Linked DNA regions of Homo sapiens. The protein of the gene in region 1 interacts with the protein of each later gene in a pairwise test. Each region holds a gene or a part of one and is shown on either strand. Other genes may lie near its edges. The genes, in order: RBPMS2, CELF4, RBM41 and PPP1R37.

What was found.
Region 2: the proteins of RBPMS2 (region 1) and CELF4 interact in binary tests that used the Homo sapiens proteins (3 or more experiments, as listed by UniProt).
Region 3: the proteins of RBPMS2 (region 1) and RBM41 interact in binary tests that used the Homo sapiens proteins (3 or more experiments, as listed by UniProt).
Region 4: the proteins of RBPMS2 (region 1) and PPP1R37 interact in binary tests that used the Homo sapiens proteins (3 or more experiments, as listed by UniProt).

Annotation. Positions count from the first base shown.
Region 1 is NC_000015.10:64,744,222-64,751,852, reverse strand, and holds part of RBPMS2 (RNA-binding protein with multiple splicing 2), read left to right. Parts: intron 1-214; coding exon 215-292; intron 293-1,471; coding exon 1,472-1,510; intron 1,511-2,359; coding exon 2,360-2,422; intron 2,423-2,702; coding exon 2,703-2,853; intron 2,854-3,285; coding exon 3,286-3,434; intron 3,435-7,631.
Region 2 is NC_000018.10:37,268,279-37,275,909, reverse strand, and holds part of CELF4 (CUGBP Elav-like family member 4), read left to right. Parts: intron 1-181; exon of another isoform or gene 182-265; intron 266-666; coding exon 667-795; intron 796-1,025; coding exon 1,026-1,105; intron 1,106-1,314; exon of another isoform or gene 1,315-1,450; intron 1,451-1,455; coding exon 1,456-1,599; intron 1,600-2,746; coding exon 2,747-2,894; intron 2,895-4,992; coding exon 4,993-5,142; intron 5,143-7,631. UniProt on the Homo sapiens protein: RNA-binding protein implicated in the regulation of pre-mRNA alternative splicing. Mediates exon inclusion and/or exclusion in pre-mRNA that are subject to tissue-specific and developmentally regulated alternative splicing.
Region 3 is NC_000023.11:107,115,499-107,123,453, forward strand, and holds the start of RBM41 (RNA-binding protein 41), read right to left. Parts: upstream 3,325-7,955; 5' UTR 3,276-3,324; coding exon 3,268-3,275; intron 3,088-3,267; exon of another isoform or gene 3,046-3,087; coding exon of another isoform or gene 2,933-3,045; intron 1,269-2,932; coding exon 1,152-1,268; intron 747-1,151; exon of another isoform or gene 653-746; intron 557-652; coding exon 364-556; intron 59-363; coding exon 1-58. UniProt on the Homo sapiens protein: May bind RNA.
Region 4 is NC_000019.10:45,088,778-45,096,399, forward strand, and holds the start of PPP1R37 (protein phosphatase 1 regulatory subunit 37), read left to right. Parts: upstream 1-4,401; 5' UTR 4,402-4,548; coding exon 4,549-4,750; intron 4,751-7,622. Other genes in the region: GEMIN7 (gem-associated protein 7), read left to right, coding at 1,338-1,733. UniProt on the Homo sapiens protein: Inhibits phosphatase activity of protein phosphatase 1 (PP1) complexes.

The DNA.
Region 1 (7,631 bases):
ATGCCTCTGGGATGTACCCAGAGAAAGGAAAGGGCTTTGAGAAATTGAGTGCTGTGAAACAATGTTAATTTGCCTTGGGTATCCAAGGAGGCCCAGGAAAGGCTGAATTCCTCTAAGCTCTAGAAGGATTCCAGTTGCCTGCCTGAAGGAAGCGCTGTTGTCATCCCTGTCCGTCTTGGGCAGCCTGGCCCTGATCACTGGTCTCTGTCTCCAGGTCCGGACACTGTTTGTCAGCGGCCTCCCTGTGGACATTAAACCCAGAGAACTCTACTTGCTCTTCCGGCCGTTCAAGGTGAGTCAGGACCCAGCCGCCCCCTGGGTAGAGCCTGGGACCCTGGAGAAGCAGCGGGAGTGAATCTCGGGTCGGGCAGGGCAGCAGGATGATGCGGGAAGGCGTGGCAGAAGCTGTGGGGGCAGGTCCAGCCCGTGTCCTGGTTCTGCGAATTCACATGCTGCCTTCTGAGCCTCTGTTTCCTCGCCAGTTAAATGGAGACAGTAAGAATCTTTTTTTTTTTTTCCTCGAGACGAGTCTTGCTCTGCCGCCCAGGCTAGAGTGCAGTGGCTTGATCTCGGCTCACTGCAACCGCTGCCTCCTGGGTTCAAGCAATTCTCCTGCCTCAGCCTCCCAAGTAGCTAGGATTACAGGCATGCGCCATTATGCCCGGCTAATATTTGTGTTTTCAGTAGAGATGGGGTTTCACCATGTTGGTCAGGCTGGTCTTGAACTCCTGACCTCGTGATCCGCCCGCCCCGGCCTCCCAAAGTGCTGGGATTACAGGTGTGAGCCACGGCGCTTGTCCTTTTTGTTTGTTTTGTTTTGAGACAGAGTCTCACTCAGTTGCCCAGGCTGGAGTGCAGTGGCGTGCGGCTCACTGCAACCTCCGCCTCCTGGGTTCAGGCGATTCTCCTGCCTCTGCCTCCCGAGTAGCTGGGACTACAGGCACCCTCCACCATGCCTGGCTAGTTTTTGTATTTTTAGTAGAGATGGGGTTTCACCATATTGGCCATGATGGTCTGGATCTCTTGACCTTGTGATCTGCCCGCCTCGGCCTCCCAAAGTGCTGGGATTACAGACGTGAGCCATGATGCCCAGCTAACAGTAAGAATCTTTAAATATATGTGGTTATATAAAGAATCTTTGAGATTCAGTGTAGCCTTTTCAGTTTGCAGATGAGAAAACTTAAAAGGTAAGGTCTGTGCTCTCGGGTTACTAGTTAGTGGAGCAAATGGGAATTTCTGCCTGAAGTGATGAGTGCTGCCGCGTGATGCCCACCCTATGTGCTAGACCGCGTGATTCAGAACGCAGGGCGGTGGACGTTTGGCAGTGGCGGAGGTCAGGGTGGGTTGATGTTGACAGGGAGAAGGGTGTGAGAATGACTCAGGGGAACGCGGGGGCTGATGAGGTGGCAGCGCTGGGCTAGCACAACATACGCTTCTGACCTTCCACGGTAACAGCCACCTCTCTCCGCAGGGGTATGAAGGGTCCCTGATCAAGCTCACTGCAAGACAGGTAATTTCTCTCCTAGGGTTTTCTTCCTCCCAGCCCAGACCGGCTGCTGAGCTTCAAACAAGGGCCCGTTAACCCTTCCCTAATCTAGAGGCATCTGGCGGTACAGACTTGCGCTCCCTGTTGTCCTGTTTCTGACAGAGCAGCCTCTGTAGGTCCCACTGTCTCTTCACTGGCCATCTGAGCCCAGCCAGCTCCTGGTCCTCCCTGTCTGTTTCTTAGGAATCTGGGAGCCCCGCTGGCTGAGGACAGTAAAGCAGTTAGCTGAGCTCTAGCTTTTTTTTTTTTTGAGATGGAGTTTTGCTCTTGTTGCCCAGGCTGGAGTGCAATGGCACGATTGAGCTCTAGCTTTTAATACAAGGAGGCCAGGGCCCGCTAGCCTTTGGGGGCTATTTGGGGTCTAGACTGATCCTTGGGAAAATGAAGTTGGAGCAGTTTTCAACCTATTGCTCCTTGATAGAACCGGAGTCTTCCCATGCCCTTGATACATTGGTGTCCCCTTTCTTGCTGGGGAAAACACTGGGACTTACTTTTAGTTATCTGCATGCATTAAAAACAATACTTTTACTAAAAGGGCGACGTTTAATTCAGTGGAATTAAGCTCTGTTGGCATCATTTCCCACAGGATATTCCTGGGGAGGGAGACTTGACTTTTGGTGCATGTTAAACTGCTGTTCCAGTGAACAGGGAGGATGTGGGCTGGAGTTTTGGGGGGCTTTTTTTCCTTTTGTATTCTCATCAGCAGGGCAAATACTGTTTCCACATAGATGATACTCTTTTTTTGTTGTTATTTTGGAGGGAGAGGTGGAATGCTAGGAGAGATATAAGGGTGTTCTCTCTTTTTCCTACTAGCCTGTTGGTTTTGTGATCTTTGACAGCCGTGCAGGAGCAGAAGCGGCCAAGAATGCGCTGAACGTGAGTAGGTGGAGAACAGGTCTTCTCTGACTCACAGCCCTCTTAGGCAGTGGGTGTGCAGATGTATCTTATTTCCCGGCCATCCCTGGGCAGAGTCCTTGGCGACACTGTCTGTGCCAAAGGCCATTACTCAAGGCCTGAGCTGCCTTTCCTCTGCCTCAGCCACCGTGTGGGCAGGTCTTCGAGGCGAGCTTGTTTATGGCGCCCTTCTCTACTCTCTGCCATTAACACTCTGGGTCCCCCGGAGTAAGCCTTTCTCTTCTTTTCTCTACCCATGTAGGGTATTCGCTTTGATCCCGAAAATCCACAGACTCTGAGGCTAGAGTTTGCCAAAGCCAACACCAAGATGGCCAAGAGCAAGCTAATGGCAACTCCAAATCCCAGCAACGTGCACCCCGCCCTAGGAGCACACTTCATCGCACGGGACCCCTGTGAGTGGCACTCTGAGCTGGCAGGCCCTCATGGAGTTGCATTCAGGGCAGACTTGCAGGCTCTTGCAGAGGGAAGCCCCTTTTCCAGGAGGCTTTTTGTGTCCACGGCCACCCATTTTTGAAACACCTGGTTTTCCTCCCTCCCCTGCAGCCTGCCTAGAATTTCTGAGCTGCCAGGGCTTCCAGCTTCCCTGCAACCTTCTTTAATTTCTCATTTGAGACGAGCTGAGGCCTGTCTTAAAGCAGGCAGGATGCACACCATGACAGGCCGATTTAACGTGGCTTCCTTGCCTGGTCTCGGGGTCCTCTGTGGTTGGGGGTGGTCTGGCCTCAGTGTGGGGCATATGGCTCAACCATAGTGCTGGGTCCCCTTCTCCGTTTGGAAGGGGAGGCGAGTGTTCTGATGATGGAGGCCATTGTCTCCTGTTGTAGATGACCTGATGGGGGCTGCTCTGATCCCTGCATCCCCAGAGGCCTGGGCCCCCTACCCTTTGTACACCACAGAGCTGACCCCAGCCATCTCCCATGCTGCGTTCACCTACCCAACTGCCACTGCCGCTGCCGCCGCCCTCCACGCTCAGGTAAGCCCTTTAAGGTTGGGGAGGGCGAAGAACAAGGGCTCTTAGCTGGCCAGACTTTGCATGTGCCTGGCCACTTGGCCGCTGCTGTCCCAGAGCTGCAGCAGAACTCTTGTCTTCCTTGATGGTTTGAAAGCCCAGACCCCAGGGACCTATTTGTCCTCCCCTTGGGTTTAGGATTTGACAGGGAGGGAGAAGATAACCCACGAGTTCCCATGGAGGATGCCAGGCAGCCCAGCTGTGGTTCCCCAGCCCCAAGCACCCCTGCCCAGGCACCGACTATGTTCTCCCATGGTGATGGGACTATGATTCCAGTCCTAACCTGGGTATGGTCTCTGGAGTCAGACCATCTGCCTCTGCCCCTTCCTGTCCCTTTCATCAAGCTCTTACAGATTGCTGTGCCTCGATTTTTTTTTTTTAGTCATCTGAAAAATGGGAATGATCAGATAATCTGCCTTAGGGTTGTTGTGAAAGTTAGATGTCAAGACGAAGTGACTACTGAGTGCTAGGATGTAACCTAGAGCGCCCTGAGTGTTGGCTCTCGCTTCCATGAAGGCTGGACGCTGTCCACTGTGAACCTGTGCCGGGCAGGAAACAGGGAGTGAATGCTTCTGGGGAGAGTCGGGGCTGTTAGAGCAGGGCCAGGAAGGCTCTGTGTGGGGTGCTGGGCTGGGTGCCCAATGGGCAGGCAGGGAGTCAGGCTTTCCCCTGGCCATGCAGGCGCTTCCTCTGGTCTGACTTGGCCACAAGTGCAGGTCACTGGAGCACTCTGCAGGGGAGGTCTCATCCCACTGTGCGTGTGTCGGGGAGCAGTGGGGTGCCTCACAGTGGCAGTGACAAGTTGCAGCCAGGCAGCCACAGGAAGGGGCTGGGGGGCACTTTTGAGCCCACCTCAACCTTTGACCAGCCAGGTGATGAGCACTAATCCCCAGGAAGAGCTGCCCGGCCAGGGTGTGCTGTGCTGCTGCGAAGGAGAGAATTGAGGTTGCTGGGACCTGGCTGGGGAGCAGGAGGGGATGAGGAAGGAAAGCAGGAGAAGCCAGAAAGGAGGGTTCACAGGAGCCAGAGCTGAGGCGGGAGGAGTCGGGTGCTCTGCCCGAGAGCTGTGTGTACGTCCATTTTCAGGTTCTTCCAGGGACTCAGTGACACCTGGGTTTGTCCAGTTCCAAAGCGGAAAGTTCAGATTCAGGGGCTGCTACCCTAGCAAACTGTTTTCCCCAGCAGGGGAATGCTCCCTGGCTCCGCAACGTTCAGTTGTACTGAGGGCAGAATTGTGGTTAACCCTGGCGCTCTTCCCCAGCTGAGCACCACAAATAGCTTGAAAATTGATCAGAGGATAAGGAAGGTGGTAAAGACCTTCCCCTGGAGGGAATTGTTGGGTATTTACTGCAAACTGGGTTCTGTGGCTGGAATAGAGCGGGGAGCAGGGAAGCTCATCCTGTCTACCCTGACCTGGGCAGTGACTTGATGCTTCAGGTCAAGCGGATGTTTAACTGCAAGGCCCTGGGAGGCACTGGAAGGAATCACAGGCTCCCACCTCACTGGGCTTCTCACCTCTGATCCCAGCTTTGGCACCAATTGGCTACATGATCCTCACCTCTGTGTCCCCATCTGTAAAATGAGAGGGATAGACCAGATAAGGTGGAGAGGTTCTGCCCTATCCTCTGAATTGCTAGGCTGTGACAGAGGTTGGGAGCCAGGGACAATGAGTTTGTCAAATGAATCAGAGAGGGCACCTCTGCCCAGCCAGGTGGGGGTGGCACTGCTCTCTGGCCCTGAGCTCCACGCCACAGGGCTTCCTTCCTCCTGTTGGCTTCCTTCCCAGTTTTCTCCCACCCCATCCACACTCTGCAGCTGTCCAACTCTGGCCCAAATCCTGGTTCTCAACAGCTGTGGGACATTGGGCACGTTACCCACCATCTCTGTGTTTCTGTAAAATGGTGATGATAATGCCTACTTGATAGGTGTGTTGTTCGCATGATGGCATGGAGTCGCGTGATGGCATGGAGGGAGTGCTGTGAAAGTGCAGATGGTTGTGATGTTATTTAATATCATTATTGTCTGGGTTCCCTTGGGTCCTCTCTGAGGCTGGAGGCCTCTTTGTGCCTGAGTTCCTGCCTTCTGGCCTTCCTTGGACGGGGACTGGGATAGAGGCCACCCACCCCAAAGGATAGTGGCGTTTTTGGGGAGGCAGGCTAATGGGAAGAGATTAGACCAGGGAGTCATTAGTTCTGTCCTTGCTACTCAAACTCTCTGGGCAGCCCTTTCCTCAATAGTAAAACAGGTTGTTTTACTGTTTCCCGACTAAGAACATTTTATTTTTTTCCTTCCAACAGCCCCACTGCTTGCCCCCTGACAGTGCTGCCCCAGAGATAGGGTATAAAAGTGTCTAAATGAAGTATGGACACTGTTGATCTTAAGTGAATTGTTTTGAACCCAAAAGACCAATAGAAGGACTGAGTTTTTCTGTGCCTGGGGGCAAGGAGGTGACTTCAGGAGAAGGTAGCAGCTGAAGGACAAGGTGATGAGAACAAGTACCTCTGTTCTCTACCCCAGCTGCATGCCCTTTGCCAGTAGCCCAGCCTGAGCCCAGGCCTCCACAGCTACGTGGCTGCAGAGACCAGACCTGCAGGAGGGGTCCTGGAGGTTGTTTGGTCCTGCTCTGTCTTGGCATGAGGCTACCTTGCCTGGCCTTCTAACCCTCTTGATAGAATCTTCCCCTTAAAGAGGGTGAGGCACAAAAGCAACTGTGGATGGCAGGCCCAGTGGGGTTCAGCATAGAAAGATGGTGGCCTAAAAGCAAGGGTTCTCAGCGTCCTATTGCATCCCACGGTCCTCCCAGACTGGATTTCATTTTACGTTCCAACCTGAGGATATGCGGGTCTTCCATGGCTTTTTTCTCCCCCTTAAACTGGTTCACCCATTTACCAGTGACCTTAAGGTTACATAAACTCCCGTGCCTCTATTTTCTTATCTGTATCATGGAGATGATAATAGCATCTACTTCATAGGGTTTTTGTGAGGATTAAATGAACTTAGTATATGAAATCTACCTAGAACAGCATTGGGCACAGGGGAGGTGCTTCATGAGCAGGAGCTATTATTGTATTAGCATATCTGCATTTATGGAAAAAAACAGGCAGTTTTTGTTCTCTTCCCTTTGGCTTATCATCCAATCCCCAGAAAACCTGTACTTTTAATTCTTCAGTTCGATAGGTAGTTTGGAGCAGGTGTATAAGTAAATCTATAGGTATGAATCTTAGAAAAACTGCAATACATATTTAATCTTTTAAAAACTTAAATATTAGGGCCAGGCGCAGTGGCTCATGCCTGTAATCCCAGTACTTTGGGAGGCCGAGGTGGGCAGATTACCTGAGGTCAGGTGGTCAAGACCAGCCTGGCTAACACGGTGAAACCCCGTCTCTATAAAAATACAAAAATTAGCTGGGCGTGGTGGCGGGCACCTGTAACCCCAGCTACTCAGGAGGCTGAGGCAGGAGAATCGCTTGAACCCAGGAGGCAGAGGTTGCAGTGAGCCAAGATCGCGCCACTGCACTCTAGCCTGGGTGACAGAGCGAGACTCTGTCTCAAAAAAAAAAAAAAAAAAAAAAAAAAAAAAAAAACAAAACAAACCAAAAAAACTTAAATATTAGGACTTAAAATAAATAATAGTAAGTGTAGCTCTACATTTTGGATACCTGGCTAGTACACCATTGTACGAATGTGTCCAGCTCCCTGTAGATGGTAAATTGGTTTGTTTATACAGTTTTGCTTACTGATAGCTATACAACAATGGATATCCTTGTGTGTACTTCTGGGCACCTCTTCTGTTTTGTTTTCTTTCTTTCTTTTTTTTTTTTTTTGAGACAGAGTTTCACTCTTGTTGCCCAGGCTGGAGTGCAATGGTGTGATCTTAGCTCACCTCAACCTCCGCCTCCCAGGTTCAAGTGATTCTTCTGCCTCAGCCTCCCTAGTAGCTGGGATTACAGGCATGTACCACCACGCCCAGCTGATTTTGTATTTTTAGTAGAGATGGGGTTTCTCCGTGTTGGTCAGGCTGGTCTCGAACTCTCGACCTCAGGTGATCCGTCCGCCTCGGCCTCCCAAAGTGCTGGGATTACAGGCATGAGCCACCGCGCCCAGCCATTGTTTTGTTTTCTTTATGATAAATTCCTAGAACTATGACACGGTGAAAGTGTA
Region 2 (7,631 bases), on another chromosome or scaffold:
CAGTGAGCATCCCAGGGAATGGGTGGGAAAGGAGAGCTATACGGAAACCCACAAAGTAGTCATTGTCCTTTGACATTCCGGCCACAGGGATGGGGGCCTGAGACAGAGTAAGGGAGGGATAAGAAGGGGCATGGGTGAGGAGGCAATACTCAAACTGAGACCTAGAAGAAGAGGACTGGACCTTGTGATAAGTGCGCTCCAGGCAGGGGAACAGCATCTGCAAAGGCCCGAAGTCAGACCCGCCAGTTGTGATTCATTTTGGAGCCTGTAGAGGATAGCATGTGAGACGAAGGAGGAGGGGAACGCAGGCTGCCCGTGTGCTCTAGTGAGGGGTCAGCCCAGGGTCTCTGCTCCTCAGGGTGCAGCCTGCCCTGCAGGCGGGAGGAGGCCGAGTCGCTGCGATCCAGCTCCTGCCTGCCACAGCTCTCTCCGCACCTGTCCCGCGACTGTGCGCTCCTACCCCACCTACTTCTCTCCCTCGCCCCTCCCGCTCCGACTAAGCCCCGCCCCCGTCCCCCTCCCCCGCACCTCTCCCCCGCCGGCTCCGAGCCCCCGCCCCGCCTCCCCGGCTCCTCCCTTTCCCTGCCGCTCTCCCCCTCCGGCCTTGCCCTGCTCCCGCGCAGCCCGGTCCCTGGCCCGGGTAAGCATCTCCTAATTTTGTTCTAGAAGATAGAAAACTCTTCGTGGGCATGCTCAACAAGCAACAGTCCGAGGACGACGTGCGCCGCCTTTTCGAGGCCTTTGGGAACATCGAGGAGTGCACCATCCTGCGCGGGCCCGACGGCAACAGCAAGGGTGCGCGGGGCGGGGCCGGGAGGGATGCCCCGGAGGGAGGGGCGAGGCGGAGGGAGACCAGAGGGCTCCTCTGAGTCTCCGGGGCCATCGCCGTCTGTCTCTGGGCTTCTTGGTGTCTCTTTCTCAATCTCTGCCTCACCCGTCTGCGTTCACCTGGGATGCGCCCTCTCCTCCCGGCCCCTCCCTGGCCCTGCTTCTGGGTCCCAGCTCGGCCTCTCGCGTCCTCGCAGGGTGCGCCTTTGTGAAGTACTCCTCCCACGCCGAGGCGCAGGCCGCCATCAACGCGCTACACGGCAGCCAGACCATGCCGGTGAGTGCTGGCCCCTTGGGGCGGGGGCGAGGGCAGCGGCGGGCCGAGACCCCAGCACCCGCCACGCCCCGCCGGCTGTCCAGTCTCCCCAAGAGACAGGAAAGCATGACCCTTATTCCGGGCCTCAGACAAGGACGCGGAAGCCCAGGGATGTTAAGGAACTGGCCTGAGGTTACCCAGGTGGAAAATGCCCGCGGTGGGGTTCACACCTCATTCCCCTGGGCGAGCGCCGATGCCGCCTCCTCCAAAGCGCCCCGAGGAGCGGGCGGGGTGGGCGCAGGCCAGAGGCACCGACAGCTGCGGGCGGAGGCTCTGGAGCAGGTGGGTCTCACGCGCCGCCCCGGCCGCAGGGAGCCTCGTCCAGTCTGGTGGTCAAGTTCGCCGACACCGACAAGGAGCGCACGATGCGGCGAATGCAGCAGATGGCTGGCCAGATGGGCATGTTCAACCCCATGGCCATCCCTTTCGGGGCCTACGGCGCCTACGCTCAGGCAGTAAGTGGCAGCGCGCACGGGCAGCGGTTCTCAAGCTCACTCCCCTGGGAGCCTCAGAGAGCGGGACATGAAACCGAAAATACTACTCTATCCCTTGCCCTCTCCCTCCAGAGTGAGGAGGGGCCGGGAATGAACCCATGAACCTGGGGGGTTTAACTTCAGAAGGGTTTGAAAGAAGGCTGGCCCAGTTGGGGTGGCTGCCAGGAGGAGGTGGGCTGCTGTCTTAGTTCTAAGGGGCAGAGCTGAGAGAGGCCCCACAGAAAAGTGGGTTACCCTGAGCCTTTTCCTCTCAGCCAGATCAACGTTGAACCCCAGGAAGCACAGATGAGAGGGTGAGGTTCAGGTCATTGGTTGCAAACCACCCCTACTCCATGGAACGGTGACTTCAGGCCTTCTGGTCTCTCCTGGCAGGGCTCCTGTGAGGTGCCCTAAAGCCCTACACACCCACACTTCTGATATCCCCTCAGGCCTCTGGCCCACCTACTTCTTTCTTCCACATGGGGGCCCACTCTGTCAGCCTCTCCCGGAGCTGCCTGCAGACTGGTAACCACAGCTCCCATGTGGGTGGCACTGAGGCAGGCCACGGTTCTGGGTCTGAAAATGCAAGCTTACCTCACTTCTGCAGTACTGTCCGCCTTGGCCACATTCCGCAGCCTCCCCTGTCCGCACTCACCTTTGTGACAACACTAGGGGTGCCTGGGGTTCTATTCATAATTCTCCTGTCACTTCTACCAACAGACTCCAAATTAAAACCATTCTGGACAGAAACCTGTGCTAAGTGAGTTCTGCAGAGGCTCATCCAGCATGTCTCTAGTGCTTTGGATGTCACTTCCCCACGAATGACAGGCTGTACACAGGGCTGACTAGCACCCACAGAGCCAGTCTCCTCCTCTGCCCCTAGCAACAACTTTGGAGTTCCAAAGACCCTAGCATTACTTTTAAATACAGTCATCTCTCAGGGTGGTGGACTCTAATAGCTGTTGAGGTACAGGGCAAGAATGGGAGAGGCATCAGGGCTTTCTGGAGTGGTAGTTGGGAGCTTCTGGGGCTCAGAGCCTGGGAGATTGGTCTCCAGGAGCTGAGGCCCCTGTCGGGGAGGGATGCCCCCTGGAAGCACGTGATATTTTTTCCACTCCCTCTGCCCCAGCTGATGCAGCAGCAAGCGGCCCTGATGGCATCAGTCGCGCAGGGCGGCTACCTGAACCCCATGGCTGCCTTCGCTGCCGCCCAGATGCAGCAGATGGCGGCCCTCAACATGAATGGCCTGGCGGCCGCACCTATGACCCCAACCTCAGGTGAGCTGGCAGGTGCCAACACGCGGTCTGGCCCGGTGGGAGAACAGCTGGCCCCAGGCTGGGACCTAATTTCAGCTACCAGCGGACCATTCTGTGGCAAAAGCACATAGTGTCTGGGCCCGAGAGGACTTGCCTTCTGGCAGTTTGTCTCAAAAATGTTCTAATCCATGGGGATCCAAGGGAAGATGAGATATGGGACCCATGCAGTCTACCGTGTGATTTCAGGGTGGGGTGGATTTCTCTCAAGCTGTTTAACCTTATCAGGAAACAATGTATCTTGATGTTTACCAACAAGAGACCTGGAAAGAAATTGACATGAAGACATCTCCCTGTGGTGTCTATGATGAGAAGAGCCTTGGCCATTCTGTGGCCTTGTTCAGCCCCTGGCCCAAGCACAGAAGGAACCCATTTGGGTGTCGTCTTTTTTTTTTTTTTTTTTTTTTCATTTCCCTTTAACCCAATCTAGACTCACTGGCTTTTTCTAAGACAACTATGCAACAAGCTAGAGAGAACCACAAGAGTTATCAAGGGACAGGAGTTTGGAAAGAACCCAGCTCACAAATCATGTTTTTGATTGAATCTTGGCTATTGTCCAGTCCAGTGAGTCTCAGCTGTTGCAGTTATGCCCCCGAATCCCCAGGACATCTGGCAATGTCTGGAGACATTTTTGATTGTCACAACTGGGAGTGGGGATTGCTACTGAAATCTAGTGGGTAGAGGCCAGGGATATTGCTGTATGATCCTACAGTGCACAGGACAGCCACCACAAGGAACTATCTGGCCCCAGATGGTAATAGTGTCAAAGTTGAGAAACGCTAGTCTAGTCCTAAGGGCTGGTCCTGCACCCCAGGCTCTTATTCACTGAGCTTCCTTGGCTCTCTGTGCCCAGGCCACAGCAGCAACTTTCCTAACATCCAAGAGCTGTTCCTTTCCCAGGTGAAAGCCAAAAAGACTGTGCCATCTCTGGGCTCAACTTGAACACTACTCTTCACCTCTGATCCCCAACTTCAAGGGATACACATGAGCCCAGGCAGTGGCCAACCTCAGGTCCACATTCTCAGAGGGACCCTGCTTCCTACATGAGAGGAAGGCCCTTTCCAGCCTCTGGGCTTTCAGTACAATCACCATAATATCCACATCTCAGGTTCCACCCACTTGGCATAGGGAGGACACAGGGTATTGTCATTTGACCCCAACTTTATTCTCACCATCATGACCACTACTATTGCTTCAAGTGGAGGAGGCCAAGGTGTCTACTTTGTGTATGAGCTAAAGCTGAGTCTGGGCTCTGTAATAACCTCTCTGCCTCAGTACGAGAGAAGGCCAGAATTAAGACCTACTCCATCTGAGCAGAAAAACTTCCTCCTGGAGAGGCATATCAGCCCCCCAATGACCAAGTAAAGACCAGCTCATCCAGCCTTAGCTGAAGAGAGTAAGAGCACTGAAAAAGACTTAAGGAAGGCCAGGTACGGTGGCTCATGCCTGTAATCCCAGCATTTTGGGAGGCCGAGGCGGGTGGATCACTTGAGGTCAGGAGTTCAAGACCAGCTTGGCCAACATGGCGAAACCCCAACCCTACTAAAAAATACAAAAATTAGCTGGGCCTGGTGGTGCATGCTGGTAGTCCCAGCTACTTGGGAGGCTGAGGAAGGAGAATTGTTTGAACCCAGGAGGTGGAGGTTGCAGTGAGCTGAGATTGCACCACTGTACTCCAGCAACCTGGGCAACAGAGCAAGACAAAAAAAAAAAAAAAAAAAAAAAGGACTGAAGGAAGACCAAGTGTGGTTACAGTCAAGGGCACTGAGAGTAGTCTATGTGCTGTCTAAGGACAAGCCATCAGGGTCAGAGAAATCTTATTTGGGCAGGTGGAATTTGGAGTCTGCCTTGAAGGATAGATACAATTGGGATAGGTGAAGTCACTTCATATAGGGAGATAAGCCAAGGCATGGGTCATAGATAAGATTGAACTGGTATGTGAGGTCCAAGTCTATCCGCAGGTCCTTGGAAACAGTTGAGTGAAGCTTTATGGGTGGGCCTTCCTCACCTTTGTTCTGCTTGCCTCCCCTCCTCCTCCACCCTTCTGTATGCCTGGAACCAGGTGGCAGCACCCCTCCGGGCATCACTGCACCAGCCGTGCCTAGCATCCCATCCCCCATTGGGGTGAATGGCTTCACCGGCCTCCCCCCACAGGCCAATGGGCAACCTGCTGCGGAAGCTGTGTTCGCCAATGGCATCCACCCCTACCCAGGTAAGCACATCTGTCAGCACTTATTTCCGTATGCAGCACATTCTTTATCCATGCTGTCCCTGCCCTTGCTGTTATAACAAGATGTGGCTCCTGCCCTCTGTCCATTCCTTGATGAAACCCCAAGTGTGATCAGAGAGGGCCAGCCTCCCATCTTCCTTCAGGGAGCCCGTGATGGAAAAAATGAGACCAAAATCCTGCCCTTGGGGATATGTCATTCTGATCTGGGAGACAGATCCCCATTCCAGGTGCTCCCTTAGGGAAGAAAGGAGACTGGGTGCAGTTGTACAACCATGTAGAGAGGCCAGTAAGTGCAAAATAATTGAGTGTGAATTTAACCTACAAGAAGTAAGGGGATAGAAACTAGAAGAACAATCAGGGTTAGTGTTAAGTAGGAAAAGACTCTTTGGGAAGGAGTGGAGGGAGGTATAACGATTGGCAGTCTGTCTAGTACAGACCAGTCCATCCCTTGGTGCACACAAAAGCGCGATCATGGTGCACGCAAAGCGTGATCAGCACCATGGACAGGTCAGCACCACAGACAGCCCAGCACCTTGGACAGCTCCTAGACTATTTTTTCAAATAGTCTGGCACACGGAAAGATCCAAGAGGCCTGCTCCTGATTACCTTTTTTCCTCAAACTTAGCCGTCCTCACAGGGTGAGAGTGTCCAGTTGGCCTGAAGCAGCTCTTCTCCCTGGTCTGGAGAATGGGCTGCTATCAGGGCAGGGAAGCTGGGCCCAAAGCCCTCTAGTAAACTACAAGGGAAATGTGCTCCCGATGTGGAGTGCCGCCCCGCTTCCTGGAGGCAGAGGATGAGGTTAGAGTCCCCGTAAGTATCAGTAAGTACTCAGTTTGTGCTGTGAAAGGGGGGCCCAAGAAGTAGAGCAGGACATGGACCTATCGCCTGGGAGGTCAGAGTCCATTGGGAACACAATCTAAGTCTGCAGAATGATGAGACAATATGGCAGAATTAAGTTTGATCATGAGTGAGTGTTCTCAGACTTGAAATGCTAAAGATCCCAATGAATGGACAGTTCTGTAGGCTAAAGAAGCCCCAAAAAGCCTTCCCAAGGAGGAAACTACCATCGAGCATTAACAGATGGGCAGGAATTGGAGAGGTGAAGATGAACAGGGAACACCCTCCTTTGGAGGGACCTGCCTGGCAAGAGTGGAGGTGGTAAGGAGATTGGCACACACGGCAGGCAGGCCAGCCCAAGGTGAATTGGCAGCAGGGGCTGGGTCCTGTTCCCCACTCTGGGTGCCCATCAGAATCCACTGTGGGGCTTTATACAACCACATAAGCCCAGACATTCTCATTTCCCTGTCTAGAGTGCAGACCAGGCATTTGTAGTATATAAAAGTCCCACTAGCAGCAGAGTGCAAGGTCACTGTACTAGAGGGAAATAGAGGAGAATTTCCTGACTTTGAACTTGGAGTTTTCCTTAATCCCATTCCCCATTCCAGAGCTTGCCCCATAATATATCCCTCAATCCACCAAGAAGAGGCCAGAGGAGTCTAGAGAGTGAAGTGATGAGGCTCTAATGATCTGGAGTGTTGTTTAAGGATGATGACCCCAAGCTGGTAGGGTGGCAGGGTGGGGCTGTGCAAGCTGGGGGTGGAAGAGATCCCACCAGTCTAAGGCTCATGGGCTGGGAGATGGCATCCCCAGCACATCTGGGTGGCTTCATTTCCCACCCCTTCCTGCCCACAAGCCCATCTGGATCTCTGGATCCTGATAAACCTGCTCCTTCCCAACCCCCTCTGGCATCTGTGAGCTATTTCCCTCATGGAATTTGGAAATGTTTCTTCCCCTATTTGTAACAATCTGCCACATCTCATAAACAATTCCTTGCCAGAGCAAGAGGGAGGGAGGGATGGAGGGAAGGAAAGGAAAAAAGTAGTACATTAAAAAAATTAATTTACCATCTTTAAATGCGGAGTTTGGACCCGCTGTAATGAGCGAGATCCTTCAAAATGTTCACTCTTTGGCAGTTACTAATGAGGTCGTTAGGCAGAGAAGTAGAGAAGGGTCTCATAAATGCTTTTTTCTGTTTCCCTGCCCCAGGTAGCTTTTCTGATCTCCCCTCTTGGGTTCTTGCTGGATACACACAGTGTGGCCTTTACTGTCACATAAACACCCTTGAAGGGGTGGCTCTTGCAAACATTAAAGATTGTTCATTCATTCTTTTCATCATACTCTGCCAGATGCTTATGATGTTCCTGGCACTGTGCTGGCAGCTGCCATGCAAATCGTGCAGGTTATATTTTGCATGAGGGCACCAAACTGTATGCCCAAAGGAAGGGGCACCCTTTTCTAATTTGCATAAAGCCACTGCATGGATGAATAGCTGGAAAGACCAAGAGCACAATCCGGACGTGGTTCTCCTTCTATAGAGCTTAGAGGCTGGCAGAGGATAGGGGCAGAGGGAAGGCAGAGAGGAGACCACCCTCCCAAGCACATCACACTGAGGAGCCCTCAGCGCCAGTCTC
Region 3 (7,955 bases), on another chromosome or scaffold:
CTTCAATATCTTGAAGACGGTTCTGTATTGCTTCAGGAGTTGCCCTCAGTTTTGTCTTCTGAAACCAGAGGAATGAGATGGCATGTATCATAGAGGGCACAACCTGAACATGATGATCTGGTATCTCAAGTAAAAAGATGACCTAGGCCCAGAAATGAATGTTTACAGAAAGTGTTAGCTAAGAAGTTAAAGAACAGCTTCTCTTTTACCAATGTCTGCATTCTAAAAATCAAAGAAGATTCAGACACCAAGCTCAGTTTTGTGAGAACTAGAAATGAAAAGGCTCTCAGTGCTAAAATGAAGATATTTTGCTCTGTTTCTTTGAGGAGAAAAACCAACAAAAAAAAACATTACCCCACTCACCTTTTCACCAGAAACATGGCTCTTCCAGATCAAGATTTCTGTTTCATTAAGCCCTAATTCCCTGAGAGAAGCAGTTTCCTGGTCCTTCTCATGCAGTGTCTGGAATTGGGACAAAGTCATAGTCCCAGCTGCTTCCTTCCCAAAGGGCTTGTACATAGTACCAGGAGCAAAGCTCTCTTTCTTAGACATACATCTGCAAAACATGCAGGAGGAGAGTAAGAACATCTTGAGGTTACTATCATTCACAAAAATGGAGGTTCAGCACTGTAAGAGGTACAATGAAACTCACCAGCAAATTTTCTCTTACATCTTATTTCTAAGCTGAAGCACCACTGCAACAAAATGGAACTCCATCGAGAGTGCCGTCATCCAGGAATAATAAACTAAATCAACAAATATTTATTGAGTACTTACTATGCATCAGATACTCTGCTAGGTACTAAGGATTTAATAGCTTTATAAAAAAGATAAAAATGGCTCCTGCTTTTGTGGAAAAACAGTGGAACAGAGGCAAGTAAACAGGCAATGATAATATTGGGTTACAAGTGCTATGTTAAGGGAAATATGGGATGCTGTAGGAGGACATAAAATAGGTACTTGGCTCAGACTTAGTGAGATATGGGAGGCTTCCCAGAGGAAGAGACACAGAATTAAAACCCTACCTAATACATTGAAGTCTAACAAAGAAAGGGAGGTGGGAGAGGAACATTCCATCTAGGCTTTAAGAGAGATCTGTCACCTGGAGGTAAGAGTCTATGATACTCTCCGTTTGCAAAATCAATACCTACTCCTCAATGGAGACAGAAGTATCAAGTTGATGCTGAAGGAGGCTTTTCAGCTGCCTCTCCCCTTCTGTTTCCAGCTCCTCCAGGACATGCTCATCACTCTTCACACAGCTGTTTACCCTGGAGTAGACATAAGAATATATACAGAAAACGGAAGAGACTGTGAGTCTCAAAATATATTCCTTATCTATATTATCTACCATTACTGACCCCATTTATTCAAAGACACTTCTCCAACAATTCATTGCCCTTTACCATTTAGTCCATGAACACTTACTAAATACCTGTTTACACAGAAGGCACTATGCTAGGTACTGAGGGAAGTCAAAGGTGTTTAAGACATAGTCCCTATCCTCAAGAAGCCCACAATCTATTTAGGGAGAAGAAGTGTGTGTTTATGTGTTGTGTGCATGTGCCTTGGCAGCGGGGGGAGGAGAGAATAATAACACATAGAAGCATATGCCAAATTAGTAGAAATTCACAGAAGAGAAAATTGGGAGATAAAGGTGGTAAAGGAAGACTTCAGAAAGGTACTTTTAAGCTGACATTCAAAGGTGTGTGATGCAGAAAAGGAGAACAGGGAAAGAGAGTACAAAGGGATAGTAATATATACTGAAGGATAATAAGAAGTAGTAATTTATCAAACAGTTAAGTGACACAGTGCAAGTGATGGTTTAGACAGATGAATGTGGTTATAATATGCCATAGAGATTCAAAGGGAAGAAACAAGAAGAACTAGTTATGAAACTACTGAAGTAAAAGGTGATGAAGGTCTAGACTGAAATGGTAATAGTGAAAATGGAAAGAAAGGGTTAGATGAGAGAGGCCTTTTGGAGGCAGAGGCAAGGAAGTCAAAGATAATCCCAAAATTTCAGTCTGTGTAACTGAGAGAACAATGGTACCAATGAAGGAAAGACAAAGCTCCAGATGGAATAAATGATTTGGGAAAGGGAAAGTCAGTATTGTTTTAGCCACATTGAGTCTAGTAGCTTTTACAATAGAAACGCCAGCATGAAGTATCAGGAATACTTCAAATACATGACTAGGAACATTTTGTTTAGGGATAAATTCATATGTACTAGAAACTATTTGCTTTTTTAAAAGCAAGGGAATTAATAACACAAAATTCCGGATAGTGGTCACCTCAGGGGGGAACGAAGGGAGGGAAGAGACACAGTAGACTTCTAAGGGACTGGCAATGTCCTATTTCTTAAGCTTGTAGTGGATGCGAACCTTTATTATTCTTTAAGCTGTATATATACATTATACATTATTTCGCATGGAGGAGATATCATAAAAAAATATTAAAGGTTAGTTTCAGGCAGGCAAAGTCATAAACGGTTTTTTAAAAGATGCAAGGAACTGACAGTGCAGGAAAGCATATCAGTAAGAATTTTAAATGCACTGCACTATTCCAGAGTGATGATTCTACTTGCAGAGTGAATCTAAAATTAATTTAAGCCCGTCAATAGTTAGGAGGCTCAGGCCATTTAGGCTCAAGCGGCCATTTACCTCAGGACAAGTAAGGGGAACTGAGCCCAGCAATGCCTTCCACCTCCCCTCCCCCCACCCCATAAATCGAACCGCTTTGGTGCTGTCCTTCCACATTTAGAAACAAAGTACCGCTCCCTTACTTTAAGATTCGAAAGCGCTACATGGTTTCGGGGCCCAAGCAAGTAGTCTTTAACACACAGACGTTGCAAATAAATGCGCCCGCCCCGAGCCTTTCTCAGGTGGAGGTGGAGGTAGGGGAGAACGGCGAGGGGCTGGCCCGAGGTACCTACATCTCCGGCGCCGGGAATTTGTCAGCCTCAAACCCTTTTGCCCAGCTGGGTCCGGGTGAAACGACGAAGCCGCAGCACCCGGCCAGCTCCCGGGGCCCGTGCCGGGAGGGCATTCCCACAGCAGCCGGCCCCGGTGGCAGCCCTTCCTGAACTTCGCTCTGCAGGCCTGTTCAGCCCGTCTCCCCTCCTCCCGTCTCCTTTGTCGTGTTCCCGCTCCCACGAAACCGCATCCTGAGAACGTGCAATACCCAAACCAGAAAGCAATGGAAGCCATTTTCAAAAGAAAAGGTAGAACAAAGCTCCCCTTGCCGCCTGCTCTTCAGACAAGTCCTTACCTCTTCATGTTTCCACAGGCCCCTACCTCCAACTTGGGTAAATAGGCCGCGGACCTCAAGTCCCAGAACTCCGCGCGGCGGACTTCTAAGGGTATTGTGATGGAGCATGGGGCTCTGGGAATTGTAGTAGCACAGAGCTATGGCAACAGAAAGAGAAAGTAGATCTCAAGTGACAGGTATGCTGAACATTGTCCAAATATTTATTTTGAATTTCTCATTTAGGTTCAAAAGAAGACCCAAAATATCCAGCTCATAAAACGAGTCACCTTTGACTTCTTGATTCTCTCATCCATTACCACTAATTCCTGGCTCTTCTGTAATTTCCTTTGAACTTATCAACACTGCTTTTCTTTCAAGGATTTATCCAGCCTACCTACCGTTTCCAGTCGAGCCTCTGCTTCATCCTTCACGATGTAGCCAGAGTCATCAGACACGAGTCTGACTATATCACCTGTACTAATGGTTCTCCTCTATCTGTAACAGAGACTTGAGAGTTTTCTCCACTCAGAATCAGAAGTCTGTGTATGTTCAGGCCCACATATGTTTTATTGATAATTATGGTGAATCAAGAAAGAGGTATAGTATAGTGGTTAAAAGCATAGGCTCTTAGTTTCCAGAAATGGAAATGCAAATGTCTTTAAGTGTATGAAAAGATGTCCAATCTCACAAATTTTAAAGTACACTGACTACCAGTACTCCTTAAAACTAGCAAGGTCATCAAAAACACAAGAATCTGTCACAGCCAAAAGGAACCAAAGGAGTCATGATGACTAAAGTAATGCAGTATCTTGGATGGGATCCTGGAAAAGAAAAAAAGACATGAGGTAAAAACTAAGGAAATGTGAACAAACTATGCTCTTTAGCTAATAACAAGGTTCGTTAGCTGTGACAAATGTATCAGAGTTATGCAAGGGAAACTGAGTTGTACGTATGTGGAACTTTGTACTATGCAACCTTTCTGTATCTAAAACTGTTCTAGAACTTAAAGTTTATTTTTAAAAGTACATTAAACTACCATTTTTCACCTAACAGATTGGGAAAGATCCAAAAGTTTGATAACACACTTGTTTTATTGAGATTGTGGGGAAACGGGCGCTCTCAATACACTAGTGGTAGGAATATAAATTGGTACAACATCTATTGGGGGCAAATGAGGATACTACTAAAATCATAAATGTACATTCCCTTTAAAGCAGCAATTCAGTTATGAATAGAATCCTCAATACTATATATCCTCTAACCTACTATCATTCCTTGCAACATTGTTTATGAAAACAGAAATGAAAATATCCAAGAACATACTATGAAAATGTATCATTCAATGAAAAACTATGCAGCAGTTACCAAGATGACAAAGTTCTCTATGAACTGCTACTAAACAATCTCCAAAATATAGTTAGTGCAATAGCAAGGTGCAGAACGATATGTATACTATGCTTCTATTTGCATAAAAAGGGGAGCTCTAGTCACTTAAAAACATATATATGTGTGTTTGCTTGTATATGCACAAAATATGTTTGGGAGAACTTACAGACAAATGATGAGTGAATGCCTCCAGGTAGGGGAACTGGATGGCTGAGGGACAAGGGCAGAAAAAATTCTTCACGTATCTTTTTGTGCCCTTTGAATTTTGAACCCATGACTACATTACCTAGTCAATACTTTTTTAATTAAAGAGAAACCCTCTTACATCTCAAGAAGCCAAAGAAGAAAAGATTGTAGGTAATGGTGGGGGGCGGGGCACACTACTTGGATTTGAATCTCACTTCTCAGTTGACAGTATAGCACGACAGGGTTTTAGAGGCAATCTGGACTTGAATTTTTGCTCTGGTAAGTTACTAGACCATGTGGGTTTCAGTAAGTTTCTTAACTGGTCTAGGCCAGTTTTCTCATCTGTAAAATGAGGATACCTCCTAAGTATAGGGTGACTGTCAAGCACATACAAAGGTATGGTTTTAAAGTTATTCCATGATTGAGTGGTAATCTATGAGTAAATAGTCAAATGTTAATCAGTAGATTTAGACTTATCCAAACTGCTTTGTATTTCCATGCTCAAGTTAGAGCAAAGGACCAAAAAGCAGCTACTGAAAAACATTGTAGAATTTCCTGTCCTGAGAACTTCTATCAGATTGAAAATGTCATGGTGAGCTACCTAAGACCTGTCACATGCAAATAACTGTGCTCTTGAATCATAAAGGTGAATGACTGCAGGCATAGCATGTACCACTTTGTAGCTTTGGCACAGAACGTGAACTGAATATAAGTATAAACAAAACGGGGGGTCACATCATTGCCTGCACCAGGTAAATCCTATATGGTGGTAGAGCTGAATTTTGTGGCTCAACCAATCTGTCCCAATTGACATATTGACAAGGAAATGGAAAAATACACCAAGGTTGCTAGTGTGCTTATCCCCTGGGACGGTGGCAAAGGATGGAACAAATATTACACCAACCATCACACCAAACTTGTGTACAACTTCTAATAAAACATATAGCCTATTGATACTGAAATGATACACACTACATTGCAAATCCACTAGGTGGGATGAGTGGAGAACGAATAGCTAAGATACATATTCACATAGCTGTGGAATTGCAACTGGAAAGCAAGGTCATAAGAAGTACTCTACATACCTGTGTATAACTGTAACCAGCGCAAGTGATAGGTACAAACAGACAAACATTCAGAAAATTACACTAAAAAGAAAACCAGGCCATTTCTAATTCTGCCAAACTTGTTAACTGTGTAATAATAGTTATTCTGTTTCCCACAACATTCTTCTCCCCAGCTTAAAAGGACATCAGACAGTGTATACAAAGCCTTGGAGATCTCTAGATGTTATACATGGGCACAGAGATCTTACCTAATTTCACAATTTTACCCCTAGAAGAATTTATGACAAACCGAAAAATATGCCTCATTTGTCTTTCTGTCAATTTAACAAGGTTAGTTTAATTAATCCAGAAGCTCCTTCTTAACAGAGACACATTTTCTGAGTTTGTCCTTTTTAGGTGCTTTGTTTGTGGCACGCTTCTGAAGACTACATTATGAAGCAGTTATGATTCCAAGATATGGAAGAAGATGTTAAAACCAAAAATCTTCTCTTGAATCTACTCACCATCTTATATTAAGAGTAAACAACTGTGCAAGTCTTTCAAATTTCCCAAATGAAATAGCATAAATGCTGTTATAGAGAACAAATATAGCATCTTTTCAAAGGATTAAAAAATGGGTATGTACTGGGATAGTGTCAACACTTTAAATTTAAGAATTCTTCAGCTAATATGTCAGCTGGTTAACAATGGTTACGAGGGGCTGAAGACTCCAGTGCCTAACATAAATGATGCTTTAACATTACTGGTAAAAATAGCTTATTTCTGTATTTCTGACCTTTTAATTAAGATTTGTCAACGTGACTGGGCACGGTGGATCACGCCTGTGATCCTGGCACTTTGGGAGGCCAAGGCGGGTGGGTCCTTTGAGCCCAGGAGTTCAAGACCAGCCTGGGTAACATGGCAAAACCCCATCTCTACAAAAAACTCAAAAATTAGCTAGGTGTGGTGGTGTGCACCTGTAGTCCCAACTACTTGGGAGGCTGAGGTAGGAGAATCACTTCAGCCCAGCAGGCAGGGGTTGCAGTGAGCCAAGATCACGGCACTGCACTCTAGCTTAGGTGACAGAGCAAGACCCTGTCTCAAAAAACAAACAAAAAAAAATTGTTCAACAATGTCATTTCTTTACATGTTAGAAATGGTCAGGAAGAATCTTAGAGATGATTTATGATTTAGTCCAATGTACAATTCCAGACAGTATACTGAGATCACCCTGTAAGTCTTAATAACATTACTAGATCAATCTAGAAGCCAGTTGCTATCCTCTGGCATCTTCTATGTACTAGGAAAAACACTAGAACTCCCACTGAAGATAATGTAACAGTAAGATAGTATAAGCAGTATTGTAGTCTCCTTTTTCTTTATTTTACTTAGGAAATATAGAGTAAGCACTCTACTCACAGTGAAAAGACATAAAGGAATCTCAAAACTTCAGAGAAATGAAAACCAGTTCCTTCTCACAAAACAGTTTGGGAAACCCTAATATGATCCAACTCTTTCATTTATGGACAAAGATAATGCCCAAGATGAAATTATTTGTCCAGTTAATTAGGCAGGAACAAGACTAGAGTCAGTGTTTCTTCTGATAAACTATATTTTCATTACTGAATGTAGAACTTGTACACAGGCTACTTTACAAGAGTTGAATCTCCAAAAGCAATGGGAAAAAATGTCTTTAGTATTACTCTTATCTACAGTATAAGAGTAATAATACTGAACTGAAAAATTAGAGATTACTAAAGATTATACTTAAAAGTTGTGTATCTACAGAAATAATTCACAAGATTATATGAGTTCTGGATTATTTTCACATTCTATAATTCTGCGTGGTTACAAAAACTTACTGGATAAGAAGCTGCTGCTTGGAAAAGTTTGAGTAGAAAAAAAAGAGTCCATGTCAATTTTGGCATTTAGTCTGCTCATAAGACTAATCGTTGCTAATATTCATTTCAAAAATATTTCTTCGTGTAATGTGTACCCGCCACGATGGTCGTGTGCAATCAGTACAACAGAAAATTTAGCTCAATAAATTATAGGTTACTGAGCTCTAGTCACTTAAAAACTTTTAATAGT
Region 4 (7,622 bases), on another chromosome or scaffold:
CCCATTCCTGGAGATGTTGGCTTTGATCACTAAGTTAAGGGGGTGCATACCAGGTTCCTCCAGTATAAATTTGTGTTTGCCCTTTACAGTGAATGAATATCTTATAAGTCTGTTAAGACTATGTAGATACCTTATACTTCATCAAACTCCCATCCATGCTTTTTTTTTTTTTTCTTTTTTTTGACACAGAGTCTCACTCTGTCGCCCAGGCTAGAGTGCTGTGGTGCGATCTCTGCTCACTGCAGCCTCCGCCTTTTGGGTTCAAATGATTCTCCTGCCTTAACCTCCCGAGTAGCTGGGACTACAGGCGCATGACACCACACCCGGCTAATTTTTGTATTTTTGGTAGAGGCGGGGTTTCGCCATGTTGACCAGGCTGGTCTCGAATTCCTGACCTCAAGTGATTCGCCCACCTTGGCCTCCCAAAGTGTTGGGATTACAGGTGTGAGCCACCGCACCCGGCCCTATCCACACATTTTTGCATCTATTCCTTTTATATTTATTTACTTGCCAGTCTACAGTAAGGATTATATTTTCCTTCTCTTCCTTATTTATTCATTTATTTATTATTGGTATGGATTCTGGATTTCTGTTTTATCCAGTGGGTTATAATCTGTAACTATCATTATTGTATTGTTCAAATAATTCCAGATTTGGCCACTGGGAGCCCTTTCAAGCTAGCTCATGTGTGAGTGGGAATCTATCTAGAAGATAGAATTTCCTGATGGATTGGGTGGGTTGTGTGTGAGAGAAAGCTGGGGTTTATTCTTTTTTTTAGAGACAGTGTCTCACTCTGTCACCCAAGCTGGAGTGCAGTTGCACAATTACAGCTCACTGCAGCCTCCATCTCCTGGGCTCAACTAATCCTTCTCCCTCAGCCTCCTGAGTAGCCCAGCTAATGTAAAATATATATATATATTTTTAGAAATGGGGTCTCGCTATATTGCCCAGGCTGGTCTCAAACTCCCAGCTTCAAAGTGATCCTCCTGCCTTGGCCTCCCAAAGGGCTGGGATTACAGGCATGAGCCACCATGCCTGGCCAGGTTCATCTTTTGGCAAATATTTATTGCCTATAAGTTGAGATAAAAACATTATAAAAGCAGACAAAGGTCCTTGCCTTCACGGGGCTCATGTTTTTGTGCATGTGACACTTTTGTTTCTGATCCAAGCCATTGGGGGACGATGGCACAGATTTTAGGAGGGTGGATCAGTCTGGGGCAGGTGCAGTGGAGCTGCCTGGTAGACCAGCCTCTGCTTCCACTCCTCCCTCCTCCATTAGCCCCATGCTTACCATGTAATGACTTCCTGCTCTTTTTCTTCACTCAACAGCCAAGACAATGCAAACTCCAGTGAACATTCCCGTGCCTGTGCTCCGGCTGCCCCGGGGCCCTGATGGCTTCAGCCGTGGCTTTGCCCCTGATGGACGCAGAGCCCCCTTGAGGCCAGAGGTTCCTGAAATCCAGGAGTGTCCCATAGCTCAAGAATCCCTGGAATCCCAGGAGCAGCGGGCACGAGCCGCCCTTCGGGAGCGTTACCTCCGCAGCCTGCTGGCCATGGTGGGTCATCAGGTGAGCTTCACGTTGCACGAGGGTGTGCGTGTGGCCGCCCACTTTGGAGCCACCGACCTGGATGTGGCCAACTTCTACGTGTCACAGCTGCAGACTCCCATAGGTGTGCAAGCAGAGGCGCTGCTCCGATGTAGTGACATTATTTCATATACCTTCAAGCCATAAAGATATTGTGTTCACTTTTCTGCTTGAGGCTAAGGCACTGTATCCCAGGCCTCCCAATGTTCCCGAGCCAGGAACTCTGGGCCCCATGGAGTTATGAGCTCCCTTGGAATTTTGAGCCAAGCTTTAAGCAAGTCTGGACTCCTGAGACCTCCTGGGTCTAGTCAGTAAAATTCTGCAACTCTAGGAATTCTAAGATCCCATTGGAAGGAATGCTCTACCTCACAGAACTCTGAACCCTACAGAAATATGGGCCTGCTGCCATTTCCTGAAGACCGGGGCATCGGGGTGGGGTGATAAAGGATACAACCTGCACAGGGGGAAGTTATTAAAGAGGCTGCAAAGTCCAGCCACCCTGAAGATACTCCCCAGTGCTCCCCTCCTGCTAAAGAACCAGTTACCCCAGGAAAATTCGACTCCTGTTTTTCTTTAATTAACTATACCGACGGGGATGGAGTCATCTTTAGGGGCTGGTAGGGTGGTTATCCAAGGGCTGAATCCAGTGGAGCTGGGCCAAGTACGACAGGAGTCCAGATAAAGGTGTAGGGGCTGCACGGCCGCAAGTCTCCTGGAAAGGCTGGAGTGACCGGCATGCCGGGATTGGGAGATTAGGATTTGATTTCATTTTGGGGCGGGCGGTGGCTCGTGCTGGGTCACGTGGTCGTGCCCAAGCGCTCCTCCTGTTGCCCCACCTGTGGTTGCTGTGGACTGCACACGACAGCAGATTCGCTGTCCCCTCGTTGGAGGCGAATGGTCGGACCCCGAGTGGCGGCGCCCCTGATAAAAGGCCGAGGATTCGCGATCAGGGTGCAACTTCACTCCCTCCTCTTTTCTCTCCAGCCTTGCAGCGTGGCCGTTCACATCACGCGCTTCACTAAGCCTCCTATCACTAGTAACCTTTCAGCGCATTGTTTAAAAAGAAAGCAGTTTCTGTCCCTTTCTGTAGTTCCTTTAAGTTCAGGATGTAAGCGAAGCCTTCCATTAAGTAAAGGTGAGTGTCGTTTCGTCTCAGTCGCGAAAGTGCGGCGGCCGATGATGAACCGCGCCAGGAGCAGCCTCAGCGGCCATCAGTCCATTCGCAGCGCCGGCTCCGCCGAGGCCCGGACTTAGCTCTCGAGTTGCCTTGGCGACGACGCAGCTCGCTCCGCCCCAGTTCCCTTTTATGGTTTCAGCCCCGCCTCCTCTAGTTAGCCGGGTGCGCTTCGGCAAGCGTGGCGAAAGTGCGGCGGCGAATGTCAAGCGTTGGGTCTGAGCCTAGGGGTGTGGCTTGAGCTCACGCTGGTTCTTTCTTGCCTCGGTGATCCACCAGCCTTGTCACCCAGGATTTAGGTTGGCAGATTCGTCTCTCGCCTTTGGAATTTCTACCTTCTCCTAGGTTTTGTTTTTTAAAATCAGGCCTATGATACCGCTCATGGGCTCATATTTATTTTAGCATTGTAATTTAAGTTGTATTTTATGCAACTCTACCCCGATACAGAGAGCTGTTGATGTAACTGCAGCGAGCAAATGGAGGACTAGAGACTAGCGAAGGGGCCGAGACTTCGTCTCCAGAGTATCCCTGTCAGCATCCATCAACTGCACTCATATATTGAATGCAGCTCCTATCCGCCTTTCTTTTCGACTTCTTCATGCCGTTACCACTCTTCATCAGTTAGTCTAGCCTCAATGTTTTCATTTATTTCCTTTGTTTTTTTTGGGGGGGGGGGAACGGAGTCTTGCTCTGTCGCCCAGGCTGGAGTGCAGTGGCACGATCTCGGCTCACTAAAAGCTCCGCCTCCCGGGTTCACACCATTCTCGTGCCTCAGGCTCCCGAGTAGCTGGGACTACAGGCGCCCGCCACCACGCCCGGCTAATTTTTTGTATTTTTAGTAGAGACGGGGTTTCACCGTGTTAGCCAGGATGGTCTCGATCTCCTAACCTCGTGATCCGCCCGTGTCGGCCTTCCAAAGTGCTGGGATTACAGGCGTGAGCCACCGCGCCCGGCCCATTTCTTTCCTTTCGTTGAGACAGGGTCTGGCTCTGTCTACCAGGTCGGAGTGCAGGGGCGCGATCATAGCTCAGTGCAGCCTCAACCTACCGGGCTCAAGCGATCTTCCCACCTCCCAAGTAGCTGGAACTACAGGCTCCTGTAACCAGACCCTGCTAATTTTTAAATTTTTTGTAAAGACGGGGCCTTGCTATGTTGCCCAGGCTGGTCTCGAACTCCTGGACTCAAGCGATCTTCCCGCCTCAGCCTTCCAAAGTGCTGGGATTATAGGCGTGTGCCGCCGCGCCCCGCCAGGTGTTTTCAGTTCTATGCACTCCATTCCCTGGGCTCTTGACGAATGTGCGGGAGCTGAATATTCGTTATTTGGACTCCGGCAGGAAGGCGTGGGCTCAGCTTCGCGCTTGCGCGCTGCTCTTGGAGACGGCGTCTACTTCGCCCCGCCCCTCATAGTCTGCAGTTCCGGCTCTGCAGATTCGCTGCTCACGTTTCTTTTTTCCGTGGCCCTTCCTGCCCTTTGTTTCTCTCTTCATGTCACCCGCGGGACAACTCTACGTGCAAGTCGCTGAAATCGATTTTCTGCTTCTTATAGTAAGCGGCGGGCTCGCCAGCCTCGAGCGAAAGTGTGACTGCGAACGGGCAGGCGCGCGCGGGGCTCGGCGGAGGCGCGCTTGGGCTCCCGGCGGCGACGACTACGACCACTAGGAGAGCGGACGGAGGCGGCGCCTGAAGCGGCGGCGGAGCCCATGCCCCGGGACGGCGGGCGGACCCGGAGAGACAAATCCGGGGCCCGGGGCATGTCCCCGGGGCCCCCGTGAGGAGGCGGCGGCGGCTATGGAGATCGCGCCGCAGGAGGCGCCGCCCGTGCCGGGCGCGGACGGCGACATTGAAGAGGCCCCAGCTGAGGCCGGGTCTCCCAGCCCCGCGTCGCCCCCCGCCGATGGGCGCCTCAAGGCTGCAGCCAAGCGCGTCACATTCCCGTCCGACGAGGATATCGTGTCTGGAGCAGTGGAGCCCAAAGACCCCTGGAGACATGGTAGCTACCGCGGGTGAAGCGGGGGCGGGCTCGAGAGGGACCCGGGAGTCGGGAGGGATCGGTGCAGGGCCCGGCTCGAGGTGGCGTTCAATAGATTGCACCTAATGGTGAATAAGGGGACAGTCGTCAGTTTAGAACCGTAGTCTGTTAGAAAGGGGGTGGCTATGGAGTTGGGAAGGTGAAAAGTATCTGGTTTCTGCCGCACCCCACCCACCCGAGACAAAGATGGTGATCGTTTTAGGGTTTAAAACGATGAGCAATTAAAGAAAGTTTGGTGTTTTGTCAGATGTAGAGTGTGGCAGCCTTTGCGTTCGTAGTTCCACCAGAGAAGGAGAGAAGGAGCAGTTGAGAGGAGGAGCGGGTCAACACTGGGCCTGAAAGGGCAGTTGAAAGAGTTTGATGGGTCTATGGGGGTAAAAAGAGGTTAAGTTGCTGGTCTGCAAGCCTTGGGGCAAGGAGTGGTCGTGTTGGCCACTTTCTTGGCTGGAAAGAGGGAGACTATAAACTTGGACTGTGGCTATAGAGGACTTGGTAAAAAGGAGTCAAGATAAGGTCCCAGAAGAGGAGCAGAGGTGGTGGTCAATTTGTGGTTGGGTGAGGGAGAAAGAGGCAGTGTGGTTTTTATGTTTTCTTTTTTATTGAGACAAGGTCTCACTACATTGCCCAGGCTGGTCTCGGACTTCTGGGTTCAAGCTGTCCTCCCTCCTTGGCCTCCCAGAGTGTTGGGATTACAGGTGTGAGCCACCGCCGCCTGCTGCAATGTGGTATTAAGAAGAAAAGCCAACGCCTACCGCCGCCTCCTCCTCCAAAAAAAAGAGAAGCAGAAGGAAGGCTGTCAGTCATTCAGGAGCAGAGGATGTTTGGGACATGGCTACGGAAGGGTCCTCTTGTTCCTTCCTGAGAAAGAATTGGGGGATGGCCGGGTGCATTGGCTCAGGCGTGTAATCCCAGCACTTTGGGAGGCCAAGGTGGGTGGATCACCTGAGGTCAGGAGTTTAAAACCAGCCTGGCCAACATGGGGAAACCCCGTCTCTACTAAAAATACAGAAATTGGCCGGGCATAGTGGTGCACACCTGTAATCCCATCTACTCAAGAGGCTGAGGCAGGGAGAATCGTTTGAACCCGGGAGGTGGAGGTTGCAGTGAGCTAAGATCACGACATTGTACTCCAGCCTGGGTGACAAGAGCAAAACTCCGGCTCAAAGAAAAAAAAAAAAAGAATTGGGGGATGTTATCAAGTCAGAAATTGGAGTTGCTGGCCAGTAGCAGGTGAGAGAGATGAAAAAGTTGGCTACTTGAAGTGTTGGGAGAGAGGGCCAGCGCACTGGAGAGGGTCAGGTCAGTGTTGGAGCTGAAAGGAGTGTGTTGGAGCCATAGGGCTGGGAAAGTGGAAAGTCGCTTGGGACATGCAGGGCAGTGTTGAGTCCATTTTGTGCTGGAGAAGTCTGTCAGTTCTCCTGGGGTGGAGCCCATGAAGTGAGGGATCAGACTGGCTGTGGTGGCCGTGGTTCTGTAGAAGCTGATCTGCCGGCCCTGGGCAAGGGGAGAAACTATTGCCAGTCTGTGGACAATGGAGGAATTGGTGGCTTTGATGTGAGGGTGGGAAACATGGTAACTGGAAACTGAACACACAGGGAGTCCATCATGAATGACAGTTTGGCTACTTATTATAATTTTTTAGACGGAGTCTCCCTCTGTCGCCCAGGCCAATTCTCCTGCCTCAGCCTCCTCAGTATCTGGGATTACAGGCACCTGTCATCACACCTGGCTAAAAATGTTTGTATTTTTAGTAGAGTTGGGGGTTTCACCATGTTGGCCAGGCTGGTCTCGAACTCCCGACCTCAGGTGATCTGCCCACTTAAGCCTTCCAAAGTGCTGGGATTACCGGCATGAGCCACCGTGCCCGGCTGGCTAGTTATTCTTAAAGAGGCAGTGGTTAAATTAAGACTTTTGGGCCGGACGCCATGGTTCATGCCTGCAACCCCAGCACTTTGTCAGGCCAAGGTGGGCAGATCACCTGAGCCCAGGAGTTCAAGACCAGCTTGGGCAACAAGGTGAAACCGCGTCTCTGCAAAATATACGAAAATTAGCCAGGTGTGGTGGTGCACGCCTGTAGTCCCAGCAACTCAGGAGGCTGAAGTGGGAGGATCATTTGAGCCCAGGAGGTCGATAGTGCAGTGAACTGTGATTGCGCCACTGAACTCCAGCTTGGGTGACAGAGACCCGGTCTTAAAAAAAAAAAAAAAAAAAAGAGTTTTGGCACTAGGAGCCAGCCAAGTCCTTGGGCTCTAGGCCCCAGGGATAGGTGGTTAGTTTGGGACCCGGGCACAGTCAGAATGCCCCCTGGCTATTGCGTGATATCCAGTCCAGAGCAGGAAGGGGAAAGACCTGGAGAGGCAGAGCAGGGTGTTTCAAGAGCAGAGGCTCCAGGTCAGATCCTTTGAGACCTCGGGCTGGTTACCTAACTCCTGAGCCTCAGTCTTCCCATCTGTGAAGTAGGTGGCAATACTCTTGCCACGGAATTTAGGAGAGGACTGGATGAAGTCACATATGGAAAGGAATTGGCCAGGGTGAGTGTTCTCGATGGCAGTCATTGTTATTAAGACAGTGTTGGTCATCTTGGGCTGGTGTGGAGGAGTTCATGCATGGGGTGGGGCCTGGATGTGGCTGCTTCAGAGGCTTCCAGGAGAGGGGAGAGATGGCAGTCAATGCGTGGGCCTGGAGTGAGGTGCGAGGGGGAAGATGGTCAGTTTGTGGGCTGAAGGGTCAGGGGTGAGGGCAGCAAGAGAGTCTGGCACAGATTGGGCTTTGGGGGGTAAAGTTTCTGGTCTGCAGATTCCCAGAACAGGTTTGGCTTTCATTCAGTAAGCCA